3 linked regions of the Homo sapiens genome follow. The protein of the gene in region 3 purifies or fractionates together with the protein of the main gene of each other region. This does not show direct contact. Each region holds a gene or a part of one and is shown on either strand. Other genes may lie near its edges.

Evidence for each region.
Region 1: the proteins of LMX1B (region 3) and MEIS2 purify together in Homo sapiens (affinity purification with mass spectrometry; 3 studies listed by BioGRID and IntAct, with this or other methods). This does not show direct contact.
Region 2: the proteins of LMX1B (region 3) and PKNOX2 purify together in Homo sapiens (affinity purification with mass spectrometry; 3 studies listed by BioGRID and IntAct, with this or other methods). This does not show direct contact.

Annotation. Positions count from the first base shown.
Region 1 is NC_000015.10:37,034,433-37,038,157, forward strand, and holds part of MEIS2 (homeobox protein Meis2), read right to left. Parts: intron 2,528-3,725; coding exon 2,382-2,527; intron 1-2,381. UniProt on the Homo sapiens protein: Involved in transcriptional regulation. Binds to HOX or PBX proteins to form dimers, or to a DNA-bound dimer of PBX and HOX proteins and thought to have a role in stabilization of the homeoprotein-DNA complex.
Region 2 is NC_000011.10:125,167,738-125,171,462, reverse strand, and holds part of PKNOX2 (homeobox protein PKNOX2), read right to left. Parts: intron 1-3,725.
Region 3 is NC_000009.12:126,620,428-126,623,927, forward strand, and holds part of LMX1B (LIM homeobox transcription factor 1-beta), read left to right. Parts: intron 1-3,500. UniProt on the Homo sapiens protein: Transcription factor involved in the regulation of podocyte-expressed genes. Essential for the specification of dorsal limb fate at both the zeugopodal and autopodal levels.

The sequences.
Region 1 (3,725 bases), on a different chromosome or scaffold from region 3:
AATTCTGCACAAAGCCTTGCATACATTCAACTAGATGAAAGCATTCTTGAGGTGACTACAAGCTCTTACTGTTAGTTCGTAGCACAGCAGAGGTACAACAAGTGCCCAGAAATCACCAGCCACCCACAACTCTAATCGGTGGCCATGGTGCATGCTGGGTGCCGCCCTGGGCAGGGAGGTGGGAGATAAGGTATTAAGGGCTCCTGACACTCCCATGTGAGATTCAACTCACAAAATACAGGTGGTAAGGCTTTCTATATTGGGTAACACGGAGCTTTCAAAACAAGAAAAGAAAACAGCACTTGGCTTCTCCGTATTTCTCCCTTGTGACTCTGAGCGTATTGATGGTGGAGACTGTGAGATTTCTATGCAACTGTTAAAGGTGATCGTCATTTTGGCAAAGTCATTGTAATGTGGAAAAATCACAGAGTTGGGGACTTGGAAGTCTCGGGCCCTTGTCTCAGCTTGACCTTCAGCTAGTAACTTCCCTTTTTGGGTCTCTGTTTCCTCATCTATAAACAGAGCAGCTGCATTCTCTAAGGTTCTACTGTTCTCTGACATTGGTTTTGATGACAGAGAGGTTGAAAACACACGTAGCTGTTTGCTTGGAAAGCAGCTGTTGAAGTGTTTATTTTCGACCAAGAAAGACCAAGCATGGAGGAGGACAGAGGGAGGGAACCAAACAGGTGAGCTGGTCAGGAGAAGGCAGCTGGCCTGTCATCCGCAGCTACACTGCCGTTCTTAGTTGCTACTCTAACCAAACAAACCTTCATTTAAAAATGAGAAACCCCTCCCCTCACAGTCACTCGACTTCCAAATTAAAAACATTTTACAGGTTAGTAAATCTCCAGCTGAGGTGATGTAGCAAAGAACAGCTGTGAAGTAATTTTGATAATGATGAGAATAATAACCACATGGCAAGGTTCAGGGCTTTGCTGTTGCAGCTTCAGTGCTCCTGAATAGATAAAAGTGATTAAATACTCCTGATTATCCCTGACCAATATGTAATGGATTTACAGCCCTTTCAATTAGTCAGTATTTGCTTAGGACTCATTATTTTGTCTTTGGTTAAGTAATCAGTCCAGAGACCGCATGTTCTGTCTAATTCCTCTGAGCCGAGTCAGTGCAGGGCCCTGACCTTTGAAATGGCCATAGCTGCAAGGCAAGAATAACCACTACCACAGCTGCCTCATTGGTTCTCCCAGCTAATCCTGACACCACAGGCCAGATCGATACACCTTAGTTTGCTACTAATGTCCTTACATCAAAATGGCCGATTTAGGAATGTGAATCTATCACTTTTCCCTCCCCACCACTGCTCCACCCCTTGCCCTTTGTAGCTCTGCAAGAAGAGCCCATCAGCAGCCACCACCATAAATAAAAGTGGAACCTTGTCCTGGACCCATGACACTGTAACTAATGTCATTCAGCATGGCAACACACAAGTTGGATAATCAAAGAAGACCTTCAGCTTTCAATGTGCTACTCTATTTTTAAGTATTAGCCTAAATAGAATGGCCTGAAAACAATATTATAGCAAGAAGCAACCTCTGAAATTTTTACTGGTTTCCCAGAATTTCCAAATGAACAGTAAAATATAAGCATGCCTAGTTTATCTGTAAAAATATATTGTAATTTTTTTGTCATAAGAGTCTTAGAGTCAACAGTATGTATCCACACATACAAGGATTGCAAACAGGAAGATAAAGATAAATTGTTACTTTTAAAATGTCTCACATAGTAAAACCGTTTCCAGAAGTGAACATGGTTAGCTTTTAAGATAATGGACTTGAGCAGCTAAAAAAAGAATCTTTAATGTCCACCTTGCAAACAAAGGCATTACAGCACCTATAACCCTTCTGAATTTGTCATATAAATACATGACATATTTGTAAACTGCTTCAGCAATTAAAGCTGCACCTGATATTGTGAGCTTGGACATGCATGTGGCAAGGTGCTTTTTTTTTTTTTTTTTTGGCCTCCTAGAGGAGACAGCTTTCGTTAACAGTGTAATCAGCAACGTTTATGGATTTGTGAGCTCCTTACAGCCATTTCCCTTGGTTGCTGTTGCAGTATCCGAAGTTGCTCTCATACTTTTAGCATAAATAACAAATTTACTTATATATGCTGTTTAGGGTCTTAGATCATTTTAAATAAAGTCCATTCCCAGCTTCTTAAAACAAAAACCTGCTACTTTCTAGAGGGTGCTCTTTGGATGGTAATAGTTGATGAAAAAAAAAACTTTAACTAGTCTGTTAGTCATCAGATTTCAAGAATAAGAAAATAGGCACCTTAGTTTAAAAAAAAATCAGTATGAGACCGTATAACTTGCTAGCAAAACAACAAAAACTATTTTTTTTTTCTCTTTCATCTTGACTTACTGTGAGATGCTGGAAGAGCCATGCTCTCATGATATTTGTTGCTACTTTGGGGAAAATGCCTCTTTTCTTCTGGCGTTTTTTGTCCTTATCCGGATCATCATCGTCACCTGTACCAGGTGAAGCTACACTGTTGTCTAAACCATCCCCTAGTAGAAAGAAATAAAAATACATTAGAGAAAACATCGCAAGGTGCCAACAACAAGTGCAGCTAATGATGAGCTCAGCTAAGCTTGTTGAAAGAAATCCATTAAGCGAGTATATTCTCTTTCATTAAAGTATAATTGGAGACACAAATATGTAAAAGACAAAATTAAACCAGGCCTCTTCAAATGTTAATTTTGTGTGTCTCACACTTGCCCATATCATTAATTCAATTATAACTGTGCACTTGACACAGTGCAGTAGCTCTTTGTCAATTATGGAATCCAATGTGGGAAAACCGCCATCAGAAAACCTATTCAGTGGAAACGCATCCCCATGCCCAGAGTGAACACATACTGTAGGGTAATCAAGTTAAATGTTCTGTAGTCTATATATTCTAGGCTGCCTGCATAGGTGACAGTAACTGTGTCACTGTTCGTTGCACATAACGCACTGCCTGCTCAGCCCCTCCTAGAGCTGTCACCTCCTAAGCACGCACATTCGCACACTTCTCATATGACCCTGCACTCGGCATTTGCATGACATGAAAACTTTTAGCTCTCTGCACCACTGATCATTATCATGAAAAAAAAAAAGATACACATCAAGGTAGGGTGCTCACTTAATCAGAAGTTTCTATCAACATCTTTCTCTTCTGTGCTTTTCTCTGGCATTAATTGTGCATTAGCAAAAATCATTTACTTTTAACAGTCATAGTTATTTTTTCTTGCCCTCTGGCAAAAATGCCTTGAAAGCCTGCCTGGAGGGCATCTAAATTATGTATCTGAAAAACTCTTCTGGCAAGGCATTGCAGGACCCCTACTTTCTTAAAATTCATACGAGCACGTCTTCCTGTTTTTGGGAAGGCATCAATCAAGAGCAGCAATATATGCCATATCCCTACATTAATATTTGAACTAATAACTTTAAAAAAAGGAAAGAAACAAGATCCGACTTGTGGCATAATCAAATGCAAAATAAATGAAGAATACGGGGACAGCACTGGGGCTTTATAGATGGCTGTGTTTTCCTTGCACATCATTAGCCTGGAGCCACACGAAAGAGGAAAACAGAGAAGTGGAGAGTTTATGCTCCCTGCTGGTGTTTAAGAAGCCAGGGTCCTGGAAGGACATCTGGGAATTGCACTGAGATGGGGGTTTTTGTAATTTAAGAATAGACATTCATTAGCAGTAAATGCCATAA
Region 2 (3,725 bases), on a different chromosome or scaffold from region 3:
GACAGGTAAAGAGCAGGGCTAGGCTCTAAATGAAGTTTTGCCTGATGCTAAATAAAGCCCATACTCAACACCGCCCCCACCACAAGCAAGCTCCTTGAGGACAGGCTTCATGGCAATGTCTTGGCTTTGTTTTTGCTGCTGTCTCCTCAATGCCTAGGACTGTGCCGGGGACACAGAAGATGCTCTATAAATATTTGCTGAATGGAAGAACAAAGGGAATGGGTGAATGCCATGCTGCCCCTCCCCAGCAAGGCAGGACACCTGCCCATGATGCCCGATTACTGGGTTCTATTTCCAAGAATCCTCAACAACTATTTGTTCCCTCTCTACTAGATTTGGGATGGCGATGTGAGTAGAGATGTAAATTGAACACAAAAGACTACGTCCTAATGAGGTGGAGGATTTACAAGCCTCAGTGCCCTGTGACCTGCTGCTTCTGTGGCCGCTTTCTGGCCCATCTGGATCTGGCTCCTCCTCCACCCCAGCCTCCCCCCTCCCCCACTGGGCACCCCCACTGCCTTGACTGAGCCGTACTCAAATTGGCCACGTTCCTACTAAGCAGAAAACTAACAGTTACCCCACCCACCCCGGCCCTATCCGAACTCTCCAGAGTCTGCTCTGGGCCCCAGGGCCAGCTGCTTTTCTCCACATTCCAGCCAAAAATAATACAAGAACGAAGCTGTTTGGTGGAGACTTAATCTAATCTTCATTGCTTCAGTTTTAAAATATCCTGCCTGGTTTAGGGTTTCTTATTACACACAGGGATGTGTTTTTAGTGAGATAGGTCTTAGCAGAAACGTCCTTCTTGTAATTAGAAACCCAGGCAGGCCGGGCCTGCAGTGAGGCATCCAAGCCAAACAGCAGATCCCCTTGAAGACAACGCATTTGCAGCAAGCTCTTCTCAAGCTCTGCTTGACCGCGTGAGATGAACTGAGCTGTCCCGGGCTTGCTTCTCCCTCTCTCCTGGGGGTTCTGGACGGGAGGAAAACCTGGAGTTCAGGTAGAAAGACTGTGCCCTCCAACTGTTGCTCTCTCAACCCCCAGCCCTGTCTCCCACCCCCAATCAAAATGGAGACTAAGATGTTGCCTGTGATTGGCTGAGAAGGAAATGAGGAGGAAAAATTACCCCAAGGAATCCCCAAAGACTAGGGAGTATTAAAGACAAGCATTCCACCAGAGCCGCGTCTCCAGGATCAGAGCTAGCTTTTACAAATCAGACACCGGAACAGAAGGAGTCTACGAGCGCACACACAGTTTTGTGTAAGTGCCGGGTGTAACTTCTTGGGCTTTCTGGCCCAGAATCTGCTTTGATCTGCCAGCAGAGACTGCTAAGAGAGGTTCAGGCCGTGGCTAGCTGCAGACCAGCACCCAACCCCCTCAGCCGACCAGATGTCACACACACACCAGTCAGGGCTCAGGCCTTGCCTTCCCAGTGGAATAAAGAGAAGGGGCTGCATTTCTGATAAGTCAGATTCTGCATTCGTCTGATACAGGACAGCTATTCCAGGTAACACCATTTGGAAGAAGCGGGCTGGATCCCCCAACTCAGCCAAAATTGCCCCTCTTGGTAAAGTGTAGATGGTTTTTGGAGTCACAGCAGGCCTTTCAAATTCTAGGATGTAATGCAAGGCAGGAATTCAGCCCCTTTACTATAGCCTAAGAACTCCTGAGAGTTGTGGGGAAGGCCCTGGAGCCAGGCGAGGAAAGAAAACACACCGAAGAATGTGACTTTGCTGCTGAGAAGCCTCTATCTCCCATTTTTTTTACTCAGAGCGCAGCCTGTGCTTGATCCAAGCCCATCATCTCACCCTAGTGAGAACTGTGTGTGATACATTCCACTTTACAGATGAAGAAACCAAGGCCCAGAAGCTAGATGACCCACTGGAGTCATGCAGCCCTGGCAATAACAGAGTCAAAAGAGACCAGGCCACTAAATTTCAGCCTAAACACTAGCTCAGCATGCTGACCTGCCAACCTTGATTATCTGCCCACCACTTCCCTCCCTCCTTCCTCCCTTTCCCACCAGGTATTAGATTTAATTAAATTAGCAGATCCCCATCGCAACAATCCTGGCCATGCTGCCTGGATAGAACCCAGCCCGTGGAGCTCCTCCCTCTAAATTCTGCTTCTCAGTATAATTCAGTCTTCAATAAGTCACGGATCTCACGTGAAGTGTTTTATACAAAGCATGGTGTGTTGGCTAGACTCAGGCTAACGGTGGTTCATGATGATTTCATTTTCCATTAGAACTTCCTCAGTTTTTCCTCTGCAGCATCGTTTTCACCCTCTCCATGCTCGGATCTGCGTTTTGTTTGATCCAGACACTTGGCTTCACATGCCGTCACCTCCAGCAATTGCATCACACGTTTATATATATCTTACAGCATCGCAGTCCTTGTGCCACACAGCGTAGGAAAAAGGAAAACTCATAACAGCCTTTCTCACCCTCCTCGAACTAATTTAGAAAATGTGCTCCAGATTAAATAAATCGGGAACAAAAGCCTGAGATTAGAGATAGAATTTCAGAAAGTAGGGAGGGGGAAGCTAAATAAATAGCAAGGAAATCTTGCAACATGTTGGAAGCCTATAAATTTTATTGGTTGTTTCTTTAATAAAAACAAATTCAATTGCTAACAACGCAGTATTATTAAGCCTCTAACATTTAAACATCTAATTTTCCCCTGCTCTGCTGCTGTTTACGTTGCACGTTGGATTCACGGAAGGTAAAGAAGTCAGGTCAATTGGTTTGGTTTGATTCCTAAACCAAGCTAATAGAGACCCCTTTAAAATCCAGCCGTTTTGCTTTCTAGGCATGCCTTGGTCTCTAATGAGTTACAGCCCAGGTTGAAGATGGACATGGCAGAAAGAAATTTAACACACACTCTGGTGCACCCATAAACTTCAAGGCCAAGGGAGAGGAGGTATGTTTCCAGTTAAGCTAGAACTCCATGAATTCAGGATTCTCCACTCACAAGACAGTAATTCTACTTATTTCATCACTAACTTACTTCAAATGTGTTTATACAATTTATTGCTACTGAACTTCCAGGCAACTGGTGTAGAGTTAATGAAACCCAGCTTGGAGAAGCTTTGAGCTTTGAACAACTAACCACAGTTTAAATGGTTATGACATGCGGTCAAAGCCACAGCCTGAGCCCACTGCAGTTTCTGTGTTAGGACCTAGTCAAAAACCTTGTCATCTCACCTTTTGTGCCAAACAGATTGAAAAAGCAAAAAGCACTGAAAAACAGCCTGCCTTGTTCCTTCTCAAGGTTCCCAGGCATTTAAACACATTTATCTTACTAAACGCGAGGCAAAGCCCCTCCCCCAGTCCCAAGTAAATATTTTAGTTGCAGTTTGAATTGGCAGCTGGGCTGAAATCCTGAAATCCAGTTTGGGTTTAACTGAACAGGGGTCAGGCCTACCTAAAGCAATGCTGGGAGAGGCTGCTGGGGAGGCACCAAGCAACATTTAAAGGCAGACTCAGTGAAAGCCCAAAGGCAACACGAGAATGAACAGATGAAACCGGACTGGAAAAGAAGCAAACTCGTCTTTCAGAATCACTTGGACATTAACTTTTATTAATTCTCATTGTCACATGGCACCCTCCCCCAAGCTCTGCCATGTGGGATCCAGCAAGCTCCCTCTTTTTAAACAGGCCCATTTTGGAAGAGTAAAGGGGAGGTACTGGATTTGCCACTGCCACACAATAAAAGCCCCTTTTG
Region 3 (3,500 bases):
ACAGGCACCTGGTGGAACTTTAATAAATATTCCATTCTCCGGGGGATCCATTATCCTCTCCTGCACCTCAAGAGAGGTGGAAAACCTGATTGTGTGGGTGCGCACAGGTGCCAACTGCATTATCAGAAAGGGCCACAACAGGGTGGCCAGCTGTGCTGGGCTCTTTCTCCTTTGGGGGCAGACGGGTGTGCTGTGCTCTTTCTCCCTGGGGGCAGACGGAGGGTGGCCGGGTGTCCTGTGCTCTTTCTCCTTGGGGGCAGACGGAGGGTGGCCGGGTGTGCTGGCTCTTTTTCCTTTGGTGGCAAACAGAGGGTGGTCCAGAGCAACAGTATTTCCACCGGGAAACAATTGGCATCTCCAGGGCCTCCATATAGCTTGGAAAAGCTTAATAATTCATATTTGAAGAACTGTTTGTACTTACTGTTTTGTGATTGAAGCCACAGAAAATAAAGCTCAGCCAATGGAGAAGGGGGTAGGTGGAGGAGAGGTCTGGGGGATTTGTCTATTTCTCAGAAGGAAGATGAGGTTTAAAAGGTGGAGAAACACCATTCCAGGAACTCAGAAGGCCCCTCCAGCTCGGGCTCTGTGGCCTTGTGAGGTTTCCACCCATGGGTGGCTGGCGATGCTTCTCCAAGGAGCCGCCTTTGTCCTGAGGCTCTGGAGTTTCTAAAAAATAAAGAAAAGGAAGAGGAAAAAAACCAGTCCTACTTTGGCATCAGTTAGGCTGAAGGATGGAGGATACTCTCACCGACATGAGTTATAACTTCCAATTTGTTGGACACCACAGTCAAGCCTCAGCCAGGGGAGGGAGGAAGGGAGGGATAGTCTACTCATCCAAGGAGCCGCGTGTGAGCTGTCAGTCAGTTGGGGGTGCCCGAGGACCCAGGGCCCTTGGCTGTCTGGCTGACCCAGCCGGAAGTTCCTCTGGCCCTCTCCAACCAGATTCTGTGCTGATGGCAGCAAAGAGCAAAACCAAAATTATATATATTTATTACCACTGCAGTCAGAAGTGGAGAGACGGTGGTAGTGAGAGAGGGCTAAGGCTGAAAACCATATTTGAAAAAGTTGATTCACGAAGGTAGAGGAAGCAAAGTGGCAGACGTTTGCCATTTCATCGACCGGCTGGTGTTCTCCATTCATGTCATAAATGTCTCCTGTCATTTGATGCCAAAAGCAACATGATTTGGTTCCCCGGTGGCCTATAGGGTTTTTCTCTCTCTCTCTCTTCTTTTTTTTTTTTTTTTTTTTTTTTTTGCAGTAAATGTTTATTTGTTGATAATAGACTTTAAACAGCCTAGCCTTGACCTCAAGTCTCCTGAAGCATCCATCTTCTCTCAGAAAAATGTTTCAAAGTTTGTGTAATTTTGGGGGGAAGGTGTAACTGACGGGGCAGTGAAGGGCTTGTGTTTGCTTTAACTACTGCTGCGGTGAGGAGTGGTGGGGCATAAGGGGCCACTGTGCTCGGAATGGCAACTTTCTTGGGTTTCAGGCCGGCTGACAGCACTTCCTCTCTGCCCTTTACCTTTGCTTTGCCTGATCAGTACAAATAAATTTCTGCGTGGGCCCTTCCTTTGTTATTCCCTGGATAATATTGTATCCATTTCTGCTCAGCATTTTGACTGGCAGCCGCTGGACCTGCCCTGCTGACCTTGGGGCCCCAAAGGGAGGATGAGGGGCTGGGGATCTGGGGATGTGTGGGTACATTTGTGGGGAGGCTTTGTCTCAATTGGGAGCTTGGCTCGGACCAGCCCTGGACGAATGTCCTGGCTGATGGCAGAGCACCTGGCTGGCCTTGGCACTTGGTGAACTGGGGGGAAGTGTTGCTGAAGGAAAAACCCGGTTCCTGGAGCCTGGTTCCAGAAGAAACAAAGATGTTTGCTTCCTGGCCGGGCCAGTGCTGTGAGAGAGGCTTCCCCGGGAACTGTGGGGAGGTGGCTAGCTGGGGAAGGTTGTGACGGCCACCCAGAGCAACAGCGATGCCCACTGGGGCTGGCAGGAATGAGGAGGCCACCGAGCTGCTGGGTAGCTGAAGATGAGCTGAGCATGCTGAGACACAGGGCCGCCAGGGGTCCCTCCCCCAAGCGCCTCCCCAGGAACTTCAGCAGCGGTGACGGGAGGGGAGGAGCAGCACTGGGTTGGGATGGGACAAGTTGGGTGTGACTGCTGTTCCCCCTTCTCCCGCCTCCTGCCTTCCAAGGGGACTCTGTGACTCTTGTCGTGTGATTCCTGGATTGCTATAGTTACTGGGCTGTTGGGTGTGGGCGCCAGACCAGGACTGAGCTGCCCAGGCCTTTGGGGTTCCAGAGGATCAAGGTGCTCTGGGGTGACCTCCTCCAAATGGAGGGGTCCTGGGTGGGGCACATTTTCTCAAAGGAAGAGCAAGCTTGTTGGCAGTTACAGAATGGGGATCCAGAATGTCTCCATCTCCCAGTGACAAAGGCCAAGGGCCTTTAGGGAAGGACTGACAGCTCTTCCTGAGCCTCAGTTCCCTTCTCTGTGAAAAGGGGGTAGTAATTCCAATCTTACAGGGTTGCTCTGAGAATAAAGTGGAACAAACCCAGATGCCAGCCAGTGTTGGGCATGCAGTCAATGTATGTTTTCTTCCTTCCTGCTGGGAAATGAGCCGAAGGCAGCCCCGTCTGGCAGGAATGCATTGTCTGTCCTGCGTGGGAGGCCCAGAAAGTGCAGCCTCCTGAACAGGCCTCCCAGAGGGGTCTTGCCCACCCTTCTGTTCCTCACCCAGGTTGGGAGCCTGTGTTTTTATTTTTATTTTTTTTCCCTTGAAAAGGGCATGGGGCCGGTCTGGATGCCAGAGGCTGCTCCTCGGAGCCAAGGCCAGCCTGTGGATGGGCCCTCATTACTACTGAGACACGTAGGTCCCATTTTTTCCAAGAGACTCCTGAGCATGGTCAGTGTAGATGTGAACTTGCAGGAGCAGCGCCTTACTGAACAGGGAGGCAGCCTGCAGTAGTGCCTCTAGAAGGGCAAGGCATTGGCGTTTGTTGAGCCCCTGTGAAGTTCACTGTCTGTACCGTCCCAACCCTGTGGTTAGGGGAGGAAACTGAGGCTGAGCAGCTTGAACAACTTCCCCAGGCCCAGAGTTAACTCTGTAGCAGATTTTTCCCGGCCCAGAGTTACCCTGTAGCAGATTTCCCCCCCAGGCGGGTCCAACTCCCAAAGCCGGATGGGTTCTCTAAGTCCTCCTATACCGACCTTCCGGAAGGTGCGGGCTCTACATTGTTGCTAATCTCCCCCAGAACGCCCAGCCTGGGAGGGGTGGGGAGGGGGAGTCGCTACCCGAGGGCTGGGAGCAGGGTGTCACTGACCTCCTCTGCGCGGATTGCCCCCTGTAGGGCCAGCCCTGGCCAGCGGAAGAAAAAGGTTAGAATAATTGCCTTCCCCTGGGCGGGAGAGCTTCCTTCGACGTCCGGACACGCGGATGGGGCGGCTTTCAGCGGCCTCCACCCGCGCACCCCTCCAGGCCCACCTCTCGGCGGTTC